Linked DNA regions of Homo sapiens: region 1 is linked to region 2. The links come from fine-mapping of genetic effects on gene expression. A gene starts in region 2. The other region holds a variant in brackets. All regions are shown on one strand. Distances are from middle to middle.

Region 1 (9,975 bases), 75 kb after region 2:
TTGTAGATTCTGGATATTAGCCCTTTGTCAGATGAGTAGGTTGCAAAAATTTTCTCCCATTTCTTTTCTGCTTTACCTCTAGTAAGGAATAGTCCTCATGCCAAAAATAGAATCTGATATTTCAGTAACTTCATAGACTGCTGGTTTTTCTTTTTCTTTTGAAATTTGGGTTTACAGAAAAAAATACATCTCCTATACCCTAAAAACCTAGAGCTTTTAATATATTTGTTTGAGTAGAATTTCAGTCTCTATATAATCAGTGTAAATAAGGTCAATAAACAAAAATCTGGTTATACTACACTGAAAAAAAGAAAACTCAAAAGAATACATTTATAGGACTGATATTACCCAATTTCAAGACTTATTATAAAGCTACAGTCATCAAGACAGCATGGTATTATGAAAAAATAGACAAATAGATCAATAGAACAGAACAGAATGCCCAGAAATAGGCCCACATAAATATAGCCAACTAATCTTTGACAAAAGAGAAAAGGCAAGAGAATGGAGAAAAGATAGTTGTTCAACAAATGGTGCTGGAACAACTGGACATCCACAAGCAAAAAAAAAAAAAAAAAAAAAAGAATCTAAATGCAGACCTTATATCCTTCACAAAAATTAACTCCAAATATGTAAATGCAAAACTATAAAACCCCAGAAGATAACATAGGAGATAATCTAGTTGATCCTGGGTTTGGCAATGACTTTTTATATATGACACCAAAAGTATAATCCATGAAAGAAATAATTGATAACCTAGACTTTATTAAAATTTAATATTTCTGCTCTGCAAAAGACACTATCAAGAGAACAAAAAGGCAATCCACAGACTGAGAGAAAATATTTGCAAAAGACATAACTGATAAAGGACTGTTGTCCAGAATACACAAAGAACTCTTAAAAGTGAACAATAAAAAAACAAACAACTCAATTAAAAAATGGGCCAAAGATCTTAGCAGACACTTCACCAAAGAAGATATACAGATGGCAAATAAGCATTTGAAAAGATGCTCAACATCATATATCATCGATGCAAATTAAATGCAAATCAAAATAATGCAAATTAAAATAATGACATGTCATTACACACCTATTAGAATGGCCAAAATCCAAAACACTGAAAACACCAAATGCTGGTGAGGATGTGGAGCAAAAGAAAGTCTCATCCATTGCTGGTGGGAAAGCAAAATGGTACAACTACTTTGTAAGACAGTTTGGCAGTTTCTTACAAAACTAAACATACTCTAACCATATGATCCAGCAATCATGCTCCATAGTATTTACTTTAAGAAGTTGAAAAGATGTCCTCACAAAAACCTGCACATAGGTGTTTATAGCACCTTATTCATTACTGCAAAAACTTGAAAGCAACCAAGATATTCTTCAGTAAGTGAATAGGTAAATAAAATGTGATATATCCAGATAGTGAAATATTATTTAGCACTAAAAAGGAATAAAAAAAACATATAGGAAACGTAGATGCATATTACCACATGAATGAAGCTCCAAGCTACATTCTGTAAGATTCGAATATGACATTCTGGAAACGTCAAGACTATGGAGACAGTAAAAAGATCAGTAGTTGCCAGAGGTTAGAGGGAGGAAGGGACAAACAGGTAGATCATAGACGATTTAGGGCAGAAAAACTACCCTCAATGATACTGTAATAGTGGACACATGTTATTATTCATTTATACAAATCCATAAAATGTACAACTCCAAGAGTGATTCCTAATGCCAACTATAGTCTTTGGATATGATCATGATGTGTCAATATAGAGTCATCAGTTGTAGCAAATGCACCACTCTGGTGGGGGATGTTGAAAATGCGGGCGACTATGAATGTGTCAAGGCAAGAACATATGGGAAATTGTGTAAATTTCTCTTAATTTTGCTGTGAAACTAAAACTGATCTTTAAAAAGATAAAGTCTATTTAAAAAGAAAAGAAAAGAAAATTCAGCAAGCCAGACTAGAAGGGAACTTCCTCAATATGATAGAGGACACACAGCTAGCATCAGACTTAATAATAAAATATTGAAGTATTTTCCCCTAAGATTGGTAATAAGGCAAGAATATGCTCTGATTGATTTTATTCTACATTGTAGTAGAGGTCCTAGCCAGTGAAAGTGAGCAAGAAAAATAAATAAGAGGTATAAGTATTGGGAAAATAAGTAAAACTGCCTTATTCATAGACAACAAGATTGTATATGTATAAAACTCTGGTTCTGAGGCATGACACCAAAAGCACAAACAAGAAAAATAGATAAATTGAACTTCATCAAAATTTAAAAGTTTTGTGCTTCAAAGAGCGTCATCAAGAAAGTAAAAAGGCAACCCACAGACTATATTTGCAAGTCATATATCTGATAAGAAACTTTCAGAATACTTCTTAAAAAATAAAATTTTTACAACTCAATAATAAGTAGGCAAATAACCTAGTTTAAAAATGAGCAAAACATATGAGTAGACATTTCTACAAAAAATATACAAATGACCAAAAAGTACATGAGAGGATTCTCAATGTCATTACCTACCAAGGAAATGTAATTCAAAAGCACAGTGAAAGCCTCTTCACACCCACCAGTAGAACTGGTGGTTCTACTGGTAAAAAAGTAGTAAAAAAAAGACAGATAATATAGTAAAAAAAGTAAAAAAAGACAGATAATATAGTAAAAAAAGACAGATAATAACAAGTGTTGGCAAGAATGTGGAGAAATTTGGAACCTCATACACTGCTAATGAGAATGCAAAACAGTATGGCTGCTTTGAAAAATAGTCTGGCAGTTCCTCAAAGGATAAAAATGAGGCAAGCAAAAACATGTCCACAGAAAAACTTGCACACGCATGTTCATTCAACAGTATTCATAATACCCAAAATGTGGAAACAACCCAAATCCTCATCAACTGATGTATACATAAATAAAATCTGTTCCATCTATACAACGGAATGTTATTCTGCCATAAAAATGAATGATACATGCTACAACATGTAGGAACCTTGAAAACATTATGCCCCAAAAGACTACATGTTGTATCATTGCTCTTATATGAAATGTTCAGAAGAGAGAAATCCATAGAGACAAAGAGTAGATTGGTGATTGTCTAGGGCTGTGAGGTGGAGATGAGAGGAGGATGAGACCTAACTGCTCCTCATCACACAGGGTTTCTTGTGGGGGTGATGAGAATGTTCTAAAACTGGATTGTGGAGATAGTCACACAGCTCTGGGAATATAATAAGAACACACTTTAAATGGGTGAATTAAATGGTATGTCAATTATGTCTCAATCAAGCTGTTTTAGAAATCATATAGAGTCTATTAAACAATTACTAGAATAAGTGAATTTAGCAAGGTTTCAGGATGTAACATCAATGTACAAAAATAAATTACATTTCAATATTCTAGTAAGAATTGGAAAATTATATTACAAAACAAATACCACTGACAATAGCATCAAAACACTAGCCAAAATAAAATACCCAGGAATAAATCTAATGAAAGGTATGTGAGATCTATAAACTGAAAATTATAAAATATTGCTTTGCAAAATTAAAATATTCCTAAGTGGAGAGATATAGCACGTCCGTAAATTGGAAACTCAATATTGTTTAAGATTTCCATCCTCCCTAAATTAATGTATAGATTTAACATAATCCATATCACATATAAGCAATCTCTTTTGAAGAAATAGATAAACTAGTTCTAAAATGTATGTGGACATGCAAGTCATCTAAAATAGCCAAAACAATTTTGAAAATGAAGAACAAATTTGGAAGCCTTTTGACTACCTGATTTTAAGACTCATTATAAAACTTCAATAATCAAGATAGGGTGATGTTGGTGTAAGGATAGGTAAATAAATCAATAGAAAAGACTAGCAAGTCCGGAAATAGGCACTATACATTACATCCTTGAAATGTGTATTTTACCACAATTAAAAATGCAAAAAAATGCTAATGTAGAAACTGAAATACTCAGAAAATAAAAAGAAGAAGAGCAATCATCCATAATCTCTCACTGTCTAGAGTTTACCAGGAGCACTTTTTAGTACACAGTATTTATCTTTTCCTGTCTCAGTGGTATAAGTGTATATTTGAGCTTTTTTTAAACAATTGGGGTCAAATTATATGTATTTGACATTTTTGTTATTGTGGTGTTAGCTTCTGAATCTAAGAAATGGAGCCAAAAAAACTTTCCTTAGTGGGAAAAAAGAATTAACTACTGATACATGCAACACTGTAGGTGAAGCTAAAAATACGTATATGTCTATATGTCAAGTGAATGAAGCCAGACCCTAAAGAGCACATGCTGGATGATTCTATTTATGTGAAATCGGAGAACAAGCCCAACTACTATACAGTGTTTGAAATCAGGAAGTAGTTGCTAAGGAAAGGAAGAGCTCACGCCTGTAATCCCAGCACTTTGGGAGGCCCGAGGTGGGTGGATCATTTGAGGTCAGGAGTTCGAGACCAGCCTGGCCAACATAGTGAAACCCCATCTCTACGAAGAAAACAAAAAATACAAAAAAAAAAAAAAAAAAAGACCCAGGTGTGGTGGTGGGTGCCTATAATCCCAGCTACTCAGGAGGCTAAGGCACAAGAATCACTTGAACCCAGGAAGTGGAGGTTGCAGTGAGCCAAGATCATGCCACTGCACTCCAGCCTGGGTGACAGAGTGAGACCCTGTCAAAACAAAAAGGGATGAGGATTTATTGGAAGGAGCATTGGGAATTGCCAATGGTGATGGAGATGTTCTACATTTTGTTCTGGGCACTGGTTACACAGGTATATGTTGTCACAACTCATTAAAGTTAACAGTTAAGATCTGTACAATTTACTGTTTCTCAATTATACCTCAACCTAAGAAAGTTTTCTAAGTAAGTGGACCAAAAACTAATCTATGTTAAAAGAAGTCAGAATAGCGGGCTACCACTGGGGCGGAGGGTATTGACTGGCAC[G/A]GGATTGAGGAGGAAACCTGCTGCCATGCTGTGTTATTCTACATTTTGATGTAGATTGTGTTACATAGCTGTATAAATTTGCAAAATTTCATTGAGCTGTACATTTCAGTTGTATATGATTTGCTGTATGTAAGTTATATTTCCATTTAAAAACAGTGAATGGGCCTGGCCTCTGCCTCCAGTCACAGCTCCTTCTCAGTGAAGACACAAGAACTGGCCGAGAAGACCAGCAAAGATGGGCAGGTGGCTTCTCCCTGTTGGTGTTCAGAGAAAGAAGGGAAAAGGAATAGCTGCCACTGCATTGGTACAAGAGCTCCAACACTCCAGATTTTATTTCTTAATTTCCACATCGAGAAACTGAGATGACAATTTTATTTTTCTACACACAACAGCAGATAAGCTATATTCCAAAGAATCATTTGTAAATTGGCTGGTTGAATGCAGAACCCAGTGTCCACAGGAAGTAATGTCCTAAATGTCCATCAGATGCCCAGGCTAGCCCACAAAAGCTAGAAGGAAGAAGGTCATCAAAATACTATAGGATTTTGTTCAAATATGTTTGCAAAGTAATGCTCTTACCACAGTAGAAACTAAATCCATTGGAAACATAATAATGTTGAAAAAGACTTCATTTTCTACTTATGAATATTGACACTTGATGAAGAACTGTGTTGTGTGTAATTAAAGCAGGATGAGTAGGAAGTTTTTTTGGCAATATTTCTAAGAGGAAAGTCTGGGAACTTTCAGGAATTACCTGATTTCACTTTGATTTCAAAGTGAAATGGCCACGTCCCTTGTCTTGATAAGTGTCTGTACCCTGATGATTATAGTATGTGCTGACCATGATTACAATTGCTTCTTGATTCACAGTGAAGGAAAATGGGAAGACTTTCCTGGGGAAGTCAGGCAGAAAGAAGTTGGAAAGTAAAAGAAAGAATGAAAGGGGTCAGCCGTAATAATAATGCCTGGCCTTTCCATTCTTTTCTGTGTGATGCTATGTTACCAGCATCCTCACTTCCTGAGCTCAGGGTCCTCCCTCTGGGCCTCTAGCTACAAACAGAAAACAAAGCCACCTTAAACTACTAGCTAGAATTGGTTACCACGTAGTCATTTGATAGATTCTCCAACTCTGTTTTTTCAGTTACTGAATGTTTGATAAATCAACTCTTATTTTGTTCCCCTGCATGGTTTTAGTCATGGCAGAGATATTATCCAGAAGCTCTTTAGCTGTGGAAATGAAGAAACTTGCTTCAACCTCATTTCTTTACAAGGACAGTGATGTAGCCCAGGATGAGGCATAATGACCACCTGTCAGGAGCGAGAGGCTGTCACACTTCAGGAAATACAAGTGACATCATTCAAGTAGTGGGGACATTTGTTTCCTGAAGGCTGCATTCATTTCTTAGCCCGAGACAGGTGGGCTTCAGGGAGACTGAGTATCCTTGTGTCATGCAGCAGGAATCTCAGAGGTTCTAAAAGATCACCTGGACAGCTCCATTTCTTGCTAGTCTGTCTTACCATATGACAAGGGCTGACTCACAGACAAGGTCGCAAGGAGAATAAAAAAGATCTAGTGTGACAAATGTCAGATGGTCTGTGGGGAGGCAGGTGACCTGTGACCCCACCAAACGTCTCTGAATGGTGCTTCTAGAAGCTTGGGTGAATGAGCTTGATGCATTCTCAGGCTAAGCCAGCTTCTCCAGGGGCCTGAGCTACTCCCACAGTGCATGCTAGGTTGCAGCAGCTGTTGTGTTGATTCTTCTAACGTCAAGACCCAGCTTTGTCTTGTATTAGTTCTATGACATTGTGCAAGTGGCTATAATCACCAAGTCTCCATTTTCTCATTTTTAAGATGATAATAACACAGCTCGAGTTTTTGGTGTTAGGGATTAAATCAGGTAGCTGTATAAAAATAGTACATAGAGGAGATAAATAACTTCTCACAGGTGCTGAATTCAGGGAATCTCTCTGAAGTGTGGGAGAGATCACCTTTGACATTGTGAAAACCGAGATGCACATCTGAGAGATTTGGGCACGACTCTGTTGCAAATCTAAACTGTCAACATCACAGACTCATACTATATGAGCTCTAGAAAGAACCTTTGAGAAAAACTTGCCCAACTCACTTGTTTATGGATGGATTCTCATCCATGAGATGAAGGAATTTACTTGTTTGTCAGTCATTGCAACTGAGTTGCTTGCTCATCAGTTGTTTAAAAATGTATTCTCAGCCAGACATGGTGGCTCACACCTGTAGTCCCAGTACTTTGGGAGGCCGAGGTGGACTCATTTGAGGTCAGGAGTTCAAGACCAGCCTGGCCAACATAGTGAAACCTGTCTCTACCAAAAAATACAAAAATTAGCCAGGAATGGTGGCTTGCACCTCTAGTCCCAGCCCTCAGGAGGCTGAGACATGAGATCGCTTGAACCCAGGAGGTGGAGACTGCTGTGAACTGAGATCACGCCATTGCACTCCAAGCTGAGCAACAGAGTAAGACCCTGTTTCAAAACAAAAAACAAAAATAAAACAAAACAAAAAAAAAAACAACATATACTCAATAAATATTCAATGAATTTGTTAACTCATCTGAGGACACAGAACTAAAAAGAAAAAGCTCAAACTAGAATTCCATTTTCTTCTGACCTACAGAGAATAGGTTTACTGTAGTGGGTAAGAGTAATCCAGATCTTGGTTCAAATCTTGACTCTGCCCCGAAGTTGTGCAATCTCAGGCAAGTTATTTAACTTCTTATTAGTAAAATGAGGATAATTGTATCTATCTCTCAAAGTGTTATTGCAAGAATTAAACAAGATCATGGAGATCGAGCATGGGGCTCTTTCTGTTACAAAAGATCACATATTAACAATGACCCAGACAAAAAACAAGTGGGTCAAAAATCTGGATATTCAGTTGGCATCACATGAAGCCTCTAGATATTTGGTAATAGCAAAGTGAACTGAATTTCTAAGTTTGTCATCATGTCCTGGCTGATATCTACACTGCCTCTTCCAGGGCAGTCATACCTGACATGTCACCCAGGCCTTCGTGGGCTTTAGCTGCCCTCCCCAGGGCAGTCAGCACCATGCTGGCAAGAGTGCAGGTCCGTGCTCAGGAGATGGGGCACCAGAAACCCTCCCCTATCTGGACAAGTCACTGAAGCCCCTGAGCCTCCATTCCCTCATCTGTGAAAAGCAGGTAACAGTGCCTTCCATACAGGGATATTGTGAGGGATGGATAGCATCATTATTCTGGAAAGTGTACAGCACTTTAAAAGCAGGAGTGAGTTTTAATGTGCCAACCTAAATCAAGCTTTGGTCTAACTACAACACTGACTGAAATTTCTTGGGAGTTTCTGCAAATTAAAATTCTAACTTGGGGCTGATACAAAAAAAGAAAAATTCATTTAAAAAAATATAATGACTGGTGATTTTTTTCCCTCCAATTCATTGTGGGAGCCATTGCTAATCATGCTGACATTTTTCCAAAGAAAGATGGCTAGAGTTAATGCAGACACGTTGAGATGAGAGTCGCCTGGCCTACCCAATGGTGCTGCCAGAGGTAATTATAACACACCTGATATTTCCAGACCCCTTTCATTTTTCAGGGAGCCAAAGCACTTTGGAAAGTCAATCATTTAGAAAGGCATAGGGAAGACAATCCAATGAGCAATTGGAAGGATAGAAAATACCAAGTTCCTAAGGAACAGTAGCAGATCTGAAAAATGAACCTTTCTCATTTGCTTGAAAAGATGGATGGTTTGTGCCTGCATTTTCCTTCTCAGCGGTGGCTCCAACACCATGTCATTACACAAAATAATGACTGCACTTGTCTCAGGCTCCATTCGTAGTACTCACATGGTGACTGAATTTACTGAACGCAAAACAACTCTCTCCTTCTGATCTGAGAACAACAGGACTGCAGAGGGAGATTGCACAGTGTCTTCTCACACCTTGGCCTCAGTTTTGGGCAGTGTTGTTTTAATGCAGCCACTTTGACTCTTGGACAAAGTGATAGCCACACTTATTTTGAGAGCCTCAAAAAGAAATGATTAACCTTTGGGCATTTCTGAAATTTCCTGGTGATGTGTGCAATAACCCCCTTCACCCCTAGCACCGAGGCTCAAGAATGAAATTAAGGTGTAATGGGGGTACAGTTAGGTCTTGGGGTTTGGGTAAGGGACGGATTGTTGGTGTGAGGCATGGTGGTAGATTTGGGTATGGGGTGAGGGATGAGATGGGGTCTGATATGGACTGAAGGTGAGTATTTGGGTAAGGGATGCAGTTAGTGTCAAGGCTGGGATGAGGCTCAAGATTTGGTAGGGACAGATCAGGTCTGTGGTGAAGAATGGGCAAGGTACAAGAAGAGTGAGCCTTCATCTTTGGGTAGGGGTAAGGGAAGGGTTTATGTATGTGCCAGGCTGAGGCTCCGGATTTGGGCAAGCAATGGTCAGGCTCCACGGAGGCTCAAAGATGGATGGTTTGAGACTTAGGGACGGATGACAGGGAAGACCTCAGTGATGGGGTGATGTCTGTTGAATGCATTACTTGCTTTACATTTTTAAAAGCTGAAAGCTTAAGAGCTTATTTCTTAAGGCCGAGAAACATGTTCTCAGCTGCAGCAAAGCATTCTGCTCTGTCAGATAGCCCAGAGTTGGTCCAAAACAAAGGTGGGAAGTCGTCTGTGTTTGTGGCCCCTCCCTGCCTTTCTGTGGGGCTTCCCCACTTTCTGATAGAGCCACCTGGCAGGTGCCCAGCAGTTCTCAACAGCCTGTAGCATGGTCCTGGAGTCTCCAGCAAGCCATCCAGGTGTCATCAGCACTGGGCCTTGCAACCCGGAGCCCTGCAACCCTGTGGTAGAGCTGCACAGGGATGGGGAGGATCGCGGGATTTAGAGTCAAGAGGACCTGTGTTCTGGGCCTGGGTCTTAGACAAATCCCTGATCCTGAGCCTGATTCTTCAGCTATAAACAGCATTTTTCATACTTATCAGATGGGTTTGGAGATTGAGCAAATATGAAG
Region 2 (9,723 bases):
ATAGCCCCTGGAAAGCTTCCCTCAATGCAGAAGAGTTGAGTTCAACCTGTTTTCAAAAAAGGCAGTGTGGTGTATGAGGTGGGGCGTGCTCTGAATCTCTAGGGCAGCGTGTGTGGCTCACATCTGAGGCTTAGGCCAGATGAAATTGAAGCCAGCTCTTTTTGACTCAAACCAAGATCCTCTGGGAGGCTAAGTAGACAGAGACAAGGAGAAATGATGACTTATCTCTCATCCTCACCCCTCAAGAATTCTGCAGAATGAGGTTGCAGACAGAACCAAGGGCTCATCTTCAGGGCACCCAGTCTCTGGAACATCCATTTGGTCTGGGGTATACATCACAGAGCTCAAAGAGACATGCAGAAACCCCAGCCCAGAGAGCCCCGCCCAAGTGTCAGGACTCTGTGAATTCATGAAGACGTTCTGAATGCCAAAGCACCTGATATTCTCAGAGACTGAGGCCCACCCTGGGCCTTGCTGAAAGTAAACAGCAAACGCTGTTCCCACCCACAAGAATACACGCCCCTTCCCCAGAGCCTGCTCCAGCATGGTCTCTGAACAGGGAGTTTTCACTGTTGGTCCTGAAGGCTGGAAAATTTTCCATCTCTTTTCTTTCACCTGGGAAGCAAAGCAGGTTCTACCTGAGTATGGCAAGGGCCAGTCTCCCCTGTCCTGGCATCTGCTCTTGGAGGGGAGTATGGCAACTTGGGGTTCACTTACTCATTCTCATTGTCTGATGGATAATCAAGTCGGGTGGAAGGAATCCCAGTTAGATATGGGACTCAACTCAGAGCTATTTTCCCCCAGGTGGGAGAAGTAGGTAAGGAGAGCGAGTCTGTACTGGCTCGAACGTGAAACCGAGGCCGTCCAGACATGGCTCGGGACAGCACCAGCCCAAGACGGCTCTGATGACCCAGGACTCTACACAGGGTCTGCAAACTGCATACAGCCCATGAGCCAAAATCGTGTTTTTACAATCTGGCTGCCACTTATTTTTGTAAATAAAGTTTTACTGAGACACAACCATAGCCCCTTCATTTACGCATTTTCTACAGCAGCTTTTGAGCTACAAGGGCAGAGGTGAGTAGTCGCGACAGAGACCACATGGCCCACGAAATCTGAAACCAGGGCAGTGCAACCCATAGGGCCCCATGCTTGGGAGATGCCACAGCTTGATTTCACCATGTTGAAATTTTTAATCATTTTTAAACAAGAGCTGAATTTTTGTTTTTCTCTGGACCCCTCAACTTATATAGCCAGTCCTGCCTGAAAGATTTACTATATGGTCCTACAGTTTGCCCTGTTCTTCTCCTTTTTTAGCTCTTGGTTCCCTTTCACTCTTCTACCTTAATGTTTCTGGACCCAGGAAGCCAGCCCCTTTCGGAAGCAGTCTATTATATCTCTGGGAAACTTTGAGGCAGTCCTTCCTGGTACCCTTACCGAGAACTATATCAGCTATCATTATCAGTGGGGCCAACGATGACCCAGGCCCTGGGTTGAGTCAAGCGAAAGTCTGCCACTTACTCACCAGTCCTTGGGACCTCCCAGAATAAATCTCATCCCTTATGCCTTCAGAGATTTGAGGAAAGTTCTTCCGTCCCTCTCTCTGAGTCTTCTCTTTAGAACCCAAAATTGTCTGTTTCTCACAAGACATGTTTCAAGCTCTTTCTTAAAGGAGCTTCCTTCCTCTATAGAGATGATCTAGTTTCCCAACACCCCTCTTCAAGCATGGAGCCCCACTAGACCTCCAAGCGTAGTCTGACCAGTGCACAGTTGAGTAGGACAGTCACCTCCATTATTCTAGAGTGTTCATCTCTATTGATGCATCCTAAGATCACTCTGTCTATTTTGGAACCCATTCCAAAAATCTCCCAGATCCCTCATGGTAGGAAAAGATGGTCCGTTATGCTCATTATATAGGTGAGTAAACCAAAGTTTGGGAGGGAGTGGCCTGCTCATGGACATATAGCAGTTCTGTCTCCAAATCCCAAGCTCTCCAGTCCACCAACTGAGATTTTTGGGCCCTCGGTTTCTACATCTGTAAAATGGAAAAGCTGGGTCTCTTCGAGCTCGAGCATACTGTGATTTGTTTTCTAAATGCAGACCCCAAAAGCCAAGTCATGAAGAAAACAGAAGCTCTCAATCCAGATCTAAAACTTGTAGGAAAAACAAAAAAAAGCTTCCTTTCCTGCTGATCATTCTAGAGTTACTAGCCTTGGAAACATTTGCATGAGTGATCAATCTTGCTTGTTAACAGTAGCCCTAGACTTGTTAGCTCACTGAGTTTTCAGTCCATGGTACCATTACTTTCTTAGTGACTCAGCTCATGTAAATCTTTCCCTTTCCCATTACTTCCCCTTTGGACCCTCCACAAATGTGTCTTCCTGCACATCCCATTTTCAAAATTCTTTTCTCTCTCTTTTCCCTGGCAAGCCAAATAACAACAACAACGACAAAAATCCTTTGAAATAAGAACGCTGTGTCCTCTATAAAACCCCAGATACAAAATGGGCTCCGGAAAGCCACTCTCTCTCCTTAATTGCTTTCTCTTGTTAGCTGCATCACCCCAGGGTTGACTTGAAAGTTTCATCTGTCAGTACGTTCTCTTCGTAACATTTTTTCTGTGAGTACACAGCCCCTCTGGTGCCCCATTAGGTTTTCCCACTGAGTGCGGGGGCACAGACTCATGCGTGGGGAATACAGGCAGGTTTTACCATCCAAACTTGACAAGGACCCCAGGCCTCAGAGAGGGGGCTCAGAGTTGCTTCACGATAGGGCCAAGAAACAACTAATGGTTCCCGGCTTCAGTGCTCTTTTCACCAGTGAGGTTTTTAGAAATACAATTGTCATAAGAAAGTGAGAGATGACCCTTTCTCTGCCTCTGGCATCTGGCCCTTTCCTCTCTGCCTCTCTGAGTCCACTCATCCTTCTGGCCCAGCTGAAGTACACTTCCTTCCTGTGAAATCCACAATGTGTGTTAGTTGCTCCACTCCCTTGGCCCTCAGCACCGATCACCAGCTAGGGGCACTGACCCTTTCAGATAACAAATGAGCCTCCTTACACACACCAAGGATGCCTAGGAAGGAAGCCAAGCACATAATGATTCTCAACAAACAGTAGTTGCTATTGCCATTAGCGCTCATTGATCCAGTGACTATGGTTGTGAAACAAGCTCCCCCAAATTCCAGTGACATAAAAAAATGATTATGATCATGAACTGTGTGGTTTAGATATTCAAACAGGACACAGAGAAGACAGTTTCTCTGTTTCATGGTGTCTGAGGCTTCAGCTGGAAGACAGGAAGGTTGGGGATGACTTGAAGACTGGCGACTGGGAACATCCAAAACTTTGTTCACCCTCATGCCTGATGCTGATGTTGGTTGACAGCTGGAGCCTCAGCTCCTCTCTATGTGGTTTTCCCACATAGGCTGGTGTGGACTTCCTCCCAGCGTGGTGACTGAGGTCCAAGAGCAAGAATCCTGAGAGGAGAGAGCCAGGAAGCCAGCCAGGGAGGGAACACAGACCCTCCCTCTTGGTGGAAGGAGTGTCAATCTCATCATCTTTGGAAAAGATGGCCTTCCATAATCATTATTACTATGTCGTTATTATTACTTCCCCTTTAGGATGATGAGTTCTTCTAGGTGGCTCTTCCATCCCTGGCGACAAGACTGCCATTAGCTGGCCCACCTTTCACCAGACATATCTGGTTCTACGGTGCACAAAGCTTAAGCTCAGGCTTAGATCCCTGCCACGTCCCTTGTGAATACAAGCAGCAATGTTCTTTTTTTTTGTTACAATCTCTTTGCAGAATATTCATGTACCTGGGACCAGGGGGACCTGGGGACCCAGGCAAGGGAATGGAAAAGCAACAAAAAAAGTTACCTCTTAATCCTAAGCGACTTAGGGACAGTTTTCTGGTTGCCCACCATTTATCCCTAGTAACACTGTGGGGGTGCCGAAAATGTGCTCAAGCTAAAAAACCTACAGTTCCATCATCGTTTGCCAAGACAGGAGTGACCAATGAGATATAAACAGAAGTAGTTGGGTTGGACTTCTAACAAAGCTTTATAACAGAGCCGACTCAGTTCGCAGATGTCGTTTCTTGTCCCTGCCCCTTCCTCTTTCTTCTTATCCAGACTCAGAGATGATGATTGGAGGAGCAGTAGACATCTTGTGCCTATGAGGTGGCTTTCGGGCTAGCAGAACAGAAGGATGGGAGTCCAGATGTCTGAAGACATCATGGAGCCACTATAATATTTCTGAACTACTTGTGTTAAGTGAGAAAAAAAGTTCCTACCTTATTCAAGTCACTATTACTTTTGCATCCTTTGTGTTACTAGCCAGGTGTAATTATTGATAAAGCCTAAATCACCTCTGGTTTTCCCCCTCCTACCTCAAACTTCACCCAGCTCCAATCCACCCTCCACCTGGCCACCAGGGAGCTTCCTCACACACAAATCTGATACCGACCCTGTCCTGCTTTGAAGCCTTCAATGGCTTTCCAGCACCCCTAGACAAAATCCACATTCTTTAGTATGACATTTGGGATGCTGCACACCCAGGCCTGAGCTGAGCTGTATCTCCTGCCTCAACCCCAGACACCCTGTGCTCCAGCCACTCCACACTTTTCAACATTCCTGTCTATACCACTCCTCAATATCCACAATCCTGTAACTTGAAGTGTTCTAGGTGCTGAGCTCCTGCTTGTCATTCGATACCTATCTGCAAAGCCACCTCCCACAGGAAGTCTTCCCCGGTGTCCTCAGAGTAAGTTACTGACTCCTATGGACTTCTAAGACCAGCTCTTTGTAAAATATCTCTGATCTGTGGCACTTACCGCACAGTATTATAATCACTTATTGTTTTAATTAGTCTCCCCACCTTGACTGGGAGCACTTCAAGGCGGACAGAGCCTTGTTGGTCTGTTTATCCCCAGCTATTAGCAAATCCTGAATGAAGGAGTGAATAGACAGGTAAATGGAAGCACAGACCCTGACCCCTGAGGATTCAGAGTTGCCATCCTTCATGCTGCTGGAGCCCAGGGGAAGGCTGAGTTAGAAGAGGGCACAGAAAAACCGAGCAGGTATCTAAGAGAGGTGCACCCCACTGATGCATGTGGAGTGTCTGGGACCCAAGAAAATCCTGGAAGCTGTCACTAGGGCAGGGTGAAGGGTAGCACGAACATGGACTTCATGTTCCCCCCACCGGGCATATCCCAGTGCAGGCTCCAGACGGCAGACGAGGGGCAGCCCCACAGCAGCTTCCTCTCCCTGTTTCATCCCCAGCCTGGCCCCACACCACAGTCCATCAACTCCTGCTCCAGGTGGAAACCTCAGAAACCCACAAAGCTCGGACCTGCTCCAGGTCACCAAGCAGCAGGGCCAGGCACTGGCAATCCAACGAGAAGCCCCACTACATCGCATTCCAGCTCCTGAAGCCATTCCCTGGGTAGGAGAGCCCTGATTGTTATTATCATCTCTCCATTTTACAGATGGGGACAGAGTGGCCTAGAGAGGTGAAGTGTGCCAAAGGTCACACAGCCAGCCAGAGGCAGAGGAGGGACTAACCCCACTTCCCTCCACGGGCAGTGCACCCCAAAGGAGCCAAAATGCTGACAGCAGTGGGGCAAATTCCAGGGGCCCCGGAGCGACCGCCGAGTTGGCCACAGCCACACGATGCATAGGAAACGCTAGGCCCTCTGCACCCTCTCCTGAGGCCCAGTGCCCTGAGGCAGCCCCCTTTAAGGAGCGATCGGCCTTCCAGAAGAGCTCCAGTCTTAATTTTAGCTTGGAGGCCTGCCACAGGAGGCTTTAGAGAGAGGCAGGCTGAAGTTATGTGGGACAGCTGTCAGCCGGCATGCTGGGTGGGGCCTATTTAGCTGGCAGGGACATAAGTCTGGGGACACTGAATTGGTCTCTCTGCCCCAAGTATTTTCAGCCCCAGCCGGCCACACAGCTCGGATCTCCTCCTGTGGATCCCCCCAGCTCTGCGATGATGGCAGAAGAGCACACAGATCTCGAGGCCCAGATCGTCAAGGATATCCACTGCAAGGAGATTGACCTGGTGAACCGAGACCCCAAGAACATTAACGAGGACATAGTCAAGGTAGGCTCTGCAGGCCTGCCTCGGCGGGCGGAGAGTGTCAGGTTTGCGAGACGTGGGCGCTTGGCAGGGGAGGGTATCTGCTGCAGACACAGTTTCCCTGAAAAGAGACTTGTTGCTCTGTTGTCTCTGTATCACCCCCCCAACCCCACCCCACCCCCAAAAAAAGGCTTCTAAATCACCGAAGGATCTTTAGCAAAATCAAGAGCAAAAAATTAGCCTCATCTCCATGACCTAAGTGCTAATCAGGGCAGGAGGAGCGAGTCACAAAGAAAATCCCTCCTTACTACTGTGACGCTCCTGCCACTCACTCCTGGCTCTCACCCTGGGAGGAACAGGAACGGGCGGCCAAGTTGGGCTCCTTTCTGTGCCAAGGGGCATTTCTGCGGTCTCTCCAGTGGGTGCAGGGTTAATCCCCAGAGGGCAGCTTCCAGCAGGGCCGGCAGCCCCTCGAGGTACACTCACTCCCCCAGAGCACTGCCCAATATCTGTCCCCAAGGCCGAGGGCCATGCCCAGCCCTCCCCTAGCTACCCCCTCACCCCAGGTCTAGTGGCCAGGACAGGGCAGACGGCACCCGGGACCCTCGAAGAGAAAGCTCGGGGTTGTCTAGCCCTCAGGGAGTCTCTCAGCGTCTGAAGTTGGGCCTCTTCCCTCGCCTCCTGGTGACACTAGCGGCCCTGCTGCCTCCAGGCCCACACCTTCAATCCAACTTCCAGCCAGTACCCAGAGGGATCTTTCTTTTTTCTTTTTGAGACAGTCTCTCTCTGTCCCCAAGGCTGGAGTGCAGTCGCACACTCACGCCTCACTGCAGCCTCAACCTCCCAGGCTCAAGTGATTCTCCCTCCTCCACCTCCTGATTAGCTGGGACCACAGGCGAGTGCCACCATGCCCAGCTAATTTTTGTATTTTTAGTAGAGACTGGGTTTCATTATGTTGACCAAGCTGGTATCAAACTCTTGGGCTCAAGTGATCCTCCTGCCTCCCAAAGTGCTGGGATTACAGGTGCAAGACTCCACAACTGGCTCAGAGGTACCTTTCTAAAGCAGAATTCCTCCAAGAAGGGTCCCCAGCCACCAGCATCTGAGTCACTGGAGGGGCTGTTAAGAGGCCAGTGTCTGAGGCCTCTCAGATCCTACTGAAAGCATTGGAATCTCAGGCCAGTGCTGTCCAATAGGGATACTGTTACCACAAGGAATTTAAAATTTTCTAGCAGCCACATTTTAAAATGCGAAAGCAAACAGGTGAAATTAATGTTCCTGATATTTCTTACTTAACCCTATATATCTAAAATAGTATTATTTCAACATGTAAGCAATATAAAACAATTATCAATGAGCTATTGTACAGTCTTCAAGTTTGAAATCCAGTGTGCTTCCTATACCCACAGTATATTTCAGTTCAGACCCCACATTTTCATCCGAAATGCTTGTTCTGCATTTAGATTTCATAAAATGTACATGTGAAAATCGATTCGCATGCCTGTACTGTTTCAAACATTCTGCAAAAATTTTTCAATAATGAAATCGGGGTTTACATTTTAATTAAAGTTAAACAAAATCTAGAATTCTTCAGTTTCACTAGCCACATTTCAAGCGCTCAAAGCTCCTGGCCACTGGATCAGACAGGCCTGTATTGCGGTCTTTCAGTGGGGCACCTCCCATGCTGGAGAAGCCTAGCCTCTCCACGTGGCTGTCCAAACCCAACACAATCTGGCCCCAACCTGCTTCTTCTGCCTGGTTGGCTCCCACCTGCCAGCCCACCCACCAGAGTACATTCCTGTGCCATTGCCAGAAGTGCCTGTCCTCTCTTCTCCAGGTGGTGAATGCCTCACTCAGCCTTCAAGGCCCAACTCAAATGCAACCTCCTCCAGAAAGCCTTCCCTGACTCCTCCAGGCAATTAGTTGCTCCCACTTCTGTCCCCCTGCTTCACTCAGGGCATTCCTCCACCACAGCTCTTCTTATACTGGATATTATATTTCTATACATCGTTAGTGATGGAGATAGAGTATACAGTATAGCACAGTGTGAAAGCTGAAATGAGGAAAATTAGGAAACAAATTTCACAAACTGTAAAGCACTATATACATGTAAATAAAATTGTACCTGTAAAATATTATTAGTTATGGTTTCCATCAGTGTCATCTAGCAGGAATAGTCCTGGACTTGACTTTAATAGACTTGATTTCAAATCCAGTCCATTTTACCTAAAAATGATAACACTGGACAAACCAACTAGGTTTTCTGAGACTCAGTTTCCCCTGTAAAGTGGGAATAATATCATTTCCCAATTTACCTCCACCAGGTAAACGAATCTCAAAGCAGCACTGTGCGTTAGAAATATAGCATGAGGATTGAATGAGATGAAGGGTTTGAAAGTGTCTATCACAGTCCCTGGCACCCAGCAAGGATGAGACAGTGTGAGTCAAAGAAGGGTCTCAAAGAGCTTGCAGTCTAGAGGGCAAGAGAGCTAAGCCAGGAGCCTGCGTCATGCCCAGGTAGCCATCTGGTACACCCAGGTGGGCTGCAGGGAGATGGGAAAGAGGATCCCACGGGAGAACATGGTTTCTAAAGGGCACCCACAATGGCTGGTAAGTACAGAGGGAGCCCTTGGATCCCTCTGAGCCAGGAGGGAGCCAGCTCCAAGCCGCAGGCCTGGATTATGACGCAGAGGGAGCGGCGGGGGCGGCGGCACAGGTGCAGCGGCTTTACGCAGCCCTCCTGGGGCTGAGAGCTGTCCTCTCCTGGAGGCCCTGAGCCCTAGCAAAAATAGCAAAGGCTAAGAAAGGATGCCGCAAATAATTTTGTCCAGAGGAGGTGGTTATTTGGTATGTTTTGGACATTCTCTGCTTTAGGGATTTGTTTGACTTTTTCTTTCTTTTATTTTTAGTGAGTGAGAAATGAAAAAAGTTAATGCAGAACAAGGATCATAAAGCAGACTCAGATATAGATCACAAACAGGTTTAGGTAGATTTCAGGTCTCTGTTACAGTCTGTTAAAGAATAAAGAAAAGAAAGAAGGAGAGAGGGGACTGTGGCTAGGAGGGATGAAGCCAGACTGTTCAGCCTCTCAACTGCCCGGGTTTTGCCATCGATGGAGGAAAAGAGAGATGGGAAGGAAAAGGGAATGAGGGAGACAGAGAGAGATGGAGAAACTGGACAGAGACTGAGAGGAAGGTGCAGGAGGCCCTGGCAGTGCCCCAGGTGGCAGGTGGCAGGGTGGCCTCACAGGTGGTAGCAGGTTTCTCATGGGCTAGGATGAGTGACACGGAAAGAATGCTGGAATAGGACCTGGCTACAGACTCAAGTTCTGGTCCAAGACCTGACAGTAACTTGCTGTGTGACTCTGAGGAAATCCTTTGCCCTCTCTGGTCCCAAGTCCCTGGTGCCACCAGTCACGGCCGTTTCACATTTAAAAAAGCCAAGGATGAAGAGTAGGAGATAGGCATACTACATCCATGGATTTGACCCCCAGTAGAGGGGAGGCACCCCTTTTTGGCCCTGCCTTTAAACCCAGGCAGCCAAGAACAGAGGAAGAGCCCTGTATACTCCAACAGACTTCAGCTGTGGTCTCCAAGGCTCGGGACTGGGCCCAGGGCAGTGTAGAAGGTCATGGAGATTGTAGCT

What was found. PIP is the estimated chance that this variant, and not a neighbour inherited with it, causes the effect.
Region 1: its variant is the best candidate, but not a certain one, in a credible set for the expression of CAV3 in nucleus accumbens (GTEx, PIP 0.57).

Annotation. Positions count from the first base shown.
Region 1 is chr3:8,803,073-8,813,047 of GRCh38, forward strand. LOC107986061 (a long non-coding RNA gene) reads right to left here. Exons shown (of 2, transcript XR_001740592.2): 2 at 5,259-9,975. Among named protein-coding and RNA genes, the nearest start is that of OXTR, 38 kb to the left of the region's middle. The variant G/A (reference allele first, on the strand shown) is at 4,958.
Region 2 is chr3:8,727,889-8,737,611 of GRCh38, forward strand. It overlaps CAV3 (caveolin 3), which reads left to right and starts at 5,914. Exons shown (of 2, transcript NM_033337.3): 1 at 5,914-6,102. The coding sequence starts at 5,989.